2 separate regions of the Homo sapiens genome follow, and region 1 is linked to region 2. Evidence: fine-mapped expression QTL. A gene starts in region 2. The other region holds a variant in brackets. All regions are shown on one strand. Distances are from middle to middle. Region 1 overlaps PARAIL (palmitic acid regulated anti-inflammatory lncRNA). Region 2 holds the start of PARAIL (palmitic acid regulated anti-inflammatory lncRNA).

What was found.
Region 1: its variant is fine-mapped to the expression of PARAIL in subcutaneous fat (GTEx, PIP above 0.99). The same link has a PIP of 0.9 or more in breast, fibroblasts and tibial artery.

What each region holds. Positions count from the first base shown.
Region 1 is chr8:89,723,312-89,726,341 of GRCh38, forward strand. PARAIL (palmitic acid regulated anti-inflammatory lncRNA) reads right to left here. Exons shown (of 5, transcript NR_125822.1): 2 at 2,207-2,330; 3 at 1,318-1,655. Among named protein-coding and RNA genes, the nearest start is that of PARAIL, 33 kb to the right of the region's middle. RefSeq lists enhancers at 2,393-2,942, 2,518-2,567, 2,598-2,647, 2,698-2,797. The variant G/C (reference allele first, on the strand shown) is at 1,521.
Region 2 is chr8:89,756,690-89,759,414 of GRCh38, forward strand. It overlaps PARAIL (palmitic acid regulated anti-inflammatory lncRNA), which reads right to left and starts at 1,022. Exons shown (of 5, transcript NR_125822.1): 1 at 356-1,022. RIPK2 (receptor interacting serine/threonine kinase 2) reads left to right here and starts at 1,127. Exons shown (of 11, transcript NM_003821.6): 1 at 1,127-1,544. The coding sequence starts at 1,372. RefSeq lists a silencer at 873-992 and an enhancer at 1,533-1,602.

The sequences.
Region 1 (3,030 bases), 33 kb before region 2:
ATAAACTCAGGTAGCCCTGTTGCTAAAGCCTATATTCTTAACCACTTCATTGGTGGTTTTTAAAAAATTTAAATACAACCCACTCCAAGAAGTAATTTTTTAAGGGCTGGGTGTGGTGGCTCACACATGTAATCCCAGCACTTTGGGAGGCTGGGGTGGGCAGATCACCTGAGGTCAGGAGTTCGAGACCAGCCTGACCAACATGGAGAAATCCCGTCTCTACAAAAAAAAAAAAAAAAAAAATTATCTAGGCGTGGTGGCACATGTCTGTAATTCCAGCTACTCAGGAGGCTGAGGCAGGAGAATCGCTTGAACCTGGGAGGTGGAGGCTGCAGTGAGCCGAGATCGCACAATGCACTCCAGCCTGGGCAACAAGAGCAAAACTCCGTCTCAAAAAAAAAAAAAAGTAATTTTTACTAGGACTCATTGTAAGAAATATGTTCTGTAACACAACCCAGTACATACACATATGTGTTTATTTTATAGACATGATAAGATATATATATAATTGAAACCAAAATTTGATGAAGCTATGCCTACTCTTACTTCCTGAAATGCAATGATATTTCATATTCTATTTTATTGTTTAATAACTACTGATCACTCCCTACAAAATTGATTTCAAAATCCACTGAGAGTCATGACCTGAAGTTTGAAAACAAGAAACATTTATTTTTACCACCATGGAAAATTTTGGAGGATTAAGTAAGATAACATACGCAGAGCATTTAGCATAACTCCTGGCACATACCATGTGCTAAATTCATGGTAGCTATTTTTATGTATCTTTTTGAAAACTAGCTGCAATTGTGGAAGGCAGGGACAATGAGGGGAAAACCCTGACTGGGCTATAGATGAATTTATTGTCAGTTAGGTCTGTCCTTGGTAGTGAGATGGGGAATTTCTCCAGTATCTTTAACTTGTGCTGCAATGGAAATGTGTATGCAGAAAGAGAGCTGACTCATGGTTATCTCTTCTCCACTACAAAAAATTGCAAATTACAAGTTATTGTGCCTCACCACTGGAAACCTCAGTAAATTCCAAATTATTGATCCATATTTACATCCAGTACTTACACTGGATACGATGATGTATACAGAACTGGTCTTCAAAAGGAGTCCTGCTGGGAAGAAGTGTTCATTTTTTGTTGATGCTTTATCAAATTACCACAAACTTAGTGGCTTAAAACAATGCAAATTTATTATCTTATAGTTCTAGAGGTCAGAAATCTGGACAGAGTCTCACTGAGCTAAAATCATGGTGTCAGTAGGGCTGGGTTGCTTTCCAGCAGTTCTAGGTGAGAACCCATTTCCTTACCTTTTCCAACTTCTTGAAAGAAGCCACCTGTATTGCTTGGCTCATGGCCCCTTCTTTCATCCTCAAAGCCAGAAACAGCAGGTTGAATCCTTCTCACATCACGTCACTCCAACTCTGACACTGACTCCATTGTCACATATCCTTTTCTGGCTCTTCTGCCTCTCTTCCATCTTTGAAAAACCTTTGTGATTACACTGGGTCCA[G/C]CTGAATAATTCAGGATAATCTCCCCATTCAAGATCCTTGACTCAATCACATCTTCAAAGCCCTCTTGCCATGTGAGGTAATATCAGAGGTGCTGGAACATTTGGTGGGGTTGGGGCAGTAGGCAACTATTCTGCCTAACACAGGACATAAACCACAAAAAAGAGCAAATAAGATGCAACAACAATAATGATAACACTGAACATTTACTATATGGCAGGCATTGTGCTGAGTAAATTATTTGCCTTGACTCACTTTCTAGGTGAGAAACCAAGACTCCCAAAGATAATGCAAAGTACAGAGTTATACAGATAGAAAGTGGCAAACCCAGGTCTGCCTGACTTCAAAGATCATACTCTCAACCACTTTACTACACATAACAAAATACCAAATCTATACACAATTAGTGGTTTGCAACTTTTCTCTATCAGGAATTCCTTTTGCTATTTTCCCTCCAGGGACCTGATCTTGAAAAATTTTGTAAATTAAACAGCAAAACATTTTATTAACCTAAGCCAAACTTCTGATTCCAACATCTGATAGCTTTGAGCTAAACTCTTTGTCTCTTTTGGGACTTACATAGTTCTAACCCCCTCAAAAAAAATGCAATTAACATTTCATTTTACATATCTTGGCATCATTTTGGAATCCTAAAAACAGGAACTCAAATAACCACCTTTATAGATACCTGATGAGTTGTTTCAGGTTGAAGTAATGATCCAAGAGTTCAGAGAAGGAGATTGATGGTGGTGGTGTAGTCAGAAGAAGTGGAATATAACCTCAGTCTCAAAGAAGCAGAAATTTCCAATGAACTAGAGAAGAAGGAAGAATACAAATAGCGTCTAGGAAGTGAGAACAAGTAAATCTAGGGAAGCTTGTTAGGAAAAACTGGAAAAGAAAATTAAGTAGAGAATAAATAAAGCATTCAGGCTTTGAAACACAGGTAAATACAGTTACATTTAACCAGATAGGAAAATACAGAATCTGGAAAGTTTCTGGGCCACAAAGTGCCACACAGTAAAATCAGGCATCTGCTCCTGGCATGCTTAAGAGCTCAGAATAAAGGACTTCCCCATTCTGCCCCTTCCCCCACTGTAAAGCTCACTGGCTTAAAAAACTGCTCCTTCTGCTACTATCTACCTCATTCTAAGCATCAACTCTAGGTGGGGCTGGTGCCTAGGCATTTTATAATTACTTTTCTATGTCTGCCTAACTTGGCTGAGAACCTACTTCAGAACTGACTCAAAAATCTCACAGATGCTGTCATTCACCCTCAGGATCTGTGTTTAATAATAGAGTCACAAGGCCTATGCAATCCAACTCAGCCCAGGGTCTGGCTTAGCCAATGTCTGCCAGCTGGTCTCATCCCCACACCCCAGGCCCCCACTTCATCACCAGTACATTGGCATCAATATTTATCTTTTCAAATTGGCATGCAATTTAAAAGAATGTTTTTATCTCACAGATCAGCAGGTATCCTATTATTATCTAGTTTTATGCTGATTTTTTAGG
Region 2 (2,725 bases):
TTATAAATGATCAAAAATGTTTAACATACTATTGTTTACAACCTCCCACTACTGTAAAATCTAACATTGCTACTTTCATTTCAGGTAATGCAAAAATACAAGAAGCATTAGCTGTCTGTAGGCAGAAATCTGTTCGAGTCATTCCTTATTACTGAATCCCTAGAATTAATTAAACATCTAGTATGGAGTTGGTATTGTATATAACATTTGCACTCACGTCTTACAAAATAGTCATCTAAGTAGAAAGGTATTCAAGGCAGAAGGATGGAAAAACGTTTGCAGTCTTTTTTGGTTGGCATGAAACACTGACTGCATTCCTCCCAGATTTATAAGAAAGAAATATTTGCAGTCTTACCTGGAGTTAGATGGATGGACTCTCTCAAGGTTATTTTTCAATCTCTGCACATACATACTTATGGAAGTAAGAAAGAAGAGGGAGAAAAGGCAGATCCCCCATAACAGCGGTTAAACACCTGAACTTGCTCCACTATGACAGGGTTTATCATCCACCTCTCAGTCCTCAAGTGGCTGGAAATATGGAAATTGGAGTCCAGGTAGACAGGTGAGTGTACAACCTCTTAAGTGTGGAGCCCTCGGAATTCACAACACTCCCCAAATCGCTTCCTGCGCAGGCGCGGAGTCGGAAGGGAGTCGGAAAGCAGACCCCGGTGCCCCCTAATAAAGCCCCCAGCCGGACGCTGCCGCTACCGGGGTTTGGCAACTTCCGGAAGACCTGTGGCCCAAAGGAGAATCCTGTTGGGGGAGGCGGGGGCCGGTGGTCGCTAACCAATCCGACACCCGCCAGCAGGCTGAAGAGAGGGGCTTTCCCAAAAGGAAAACTTTCCCAAACCTGGGGGATGGGAAGAGAAGACAAAAGGAGCTCCCTTTCCCACTTCCCAGCCGCCCGTCCCAGCCCTCGGCCTCCGCTGCGCGACCCGGGCGGAGGATCCCGGCCGCAGGCCGAGGCGAGAGCCAGGCGGGAGGGCCGCGAGCGGGCTGCCCCTCTCCCCGCCTTGCCGTCCGCCGCTGACGTAACCTGCGAAGTTTGGGGAGGGAGGAGCTCGGGCGGCCGGAGCTGGTCGCTGCGCGCGCCGGGGGGAGGGCCGGGGCTGCGAGAGAGGAAGCTCTTTCGCGGCGCTACGGCGTTGGCACCAGTCTCTAGAAAAGAAGTCAGCTCTGGTTCGGAGAAGCAGCGGCTGGCGTGGGCCATCCGGGGAATGGGCGCCCTCGTGACCTAGTGTTGCGGGGCAAAAAGGGTCTTGCCGGCCTCGCTCGTGCAGGGGCGTATCTGGGCGCCTGAGCGCGGCGTGGGAGCCTTGGGAGCCGCCGCAGCAGGGGGCACACCCGGAACCGGCCTGAGCGCCCGGGACCATGAACGGGGAGGCCATCTGCAGCGCCCTGCCCACCATTCCCTACCACAAACTCGCCGACCTGCGCTACCTGAGCCGCGGCGCCTCTGGCACTGTGTCGTCCGCCCGCCACGCAGACTGGCGCGTCCAGGTGGCCGTGAAGCACCTGCACATCCACACTCCGCTGCTCGACAGGTAGGCAGTCACTGGGGTTCCCTGGAAGAGCCCTCAACTCCTGCATCCCCTCAAGCCCCCTGACAAGCGGGCTCTAGAGCCCAAATGGCAGTGACCGCTTGGGGCCGGCCTCACCTCGTCACCTCTAGGGAGCCCTTCAAGCTTGGGAGATAGGGAGCACCCACCCTTCAAGCTCTGGCACCGTAGGGAGCACAGGCTTCTCTGGAGATGCAGCAGTTGCATTCCTCCACACATCTCTCCATTACCCTTTCTCTCCTTCCCTCTTACTCCTAGGCGTTCTGGCTCCGTACTCCAAAAATCAGCAATCACTGCCTAACTCTAAACGCTGGGTTTACTGAAATTGATGTGTGTTTATATATAGTGGGTGTGGGTTTTGTTTGCTTTGTTTTTTCCTTATTTTTGAAATTGGGCTGTAGGGCTGCACTGTCCAGTAGGTAGCTCTTAGCCACAGGTGGCTATTGAGCACTTGAAATGTGCCCGTCCGAATTGAAGTGTGACCTAAGTGTAAAATACCAGAGTTCGAATGCTTAGTATTTATTAAAAAAAGAACTTATAATATTTTATTATTTGTTTATTGATTATATGCTGAAATAACATTTTTGATATCTTGGGTTAAATATAAGATTAAAATTCATTTTATGTGTTTCTTTTTACTTTATGTGGCCACGAGAAAATTTTAAATTGTATGTGGTGGTGTTCACATTATATGTTTATTGGACCGCACTGCTTTAGAATCAAGGATGTTTTGCTTCTTATTGTTTTTATTTTGGTTTTGGTTTATTATGTGTTGTCAGGAACGTTTTATATCAAACTCAATACTAGCAGTTCAGTTTCTCCCAGTCTCAGTTTCTCTCACAGGGAAGATTAAGTAGAGGAAATGTGTGCTATTTTTGCCACAATAAATTGAACCAAAAGACTGTTAAATGGCCAGAAATTGTAAATGGCTTTCACTTATTGGTTTGTACAGGTTTTAAGGGAAGGTTAGCATTAGTTTCTGTTTTCAGAAGAACATTACAACCGCGTGCCATAGACCTGTGACTGTGTATTAGTCAATGGGTCACTAGTCTTGTGTATTTTACTTCCTACAGGGATTTAACTAGGCCCAGCATTCAGTTCTTAGTGAGTTAACATCCATGATTACAACATTCTCTTCTCCTCCTCCTATATCTAATGTGAAAATA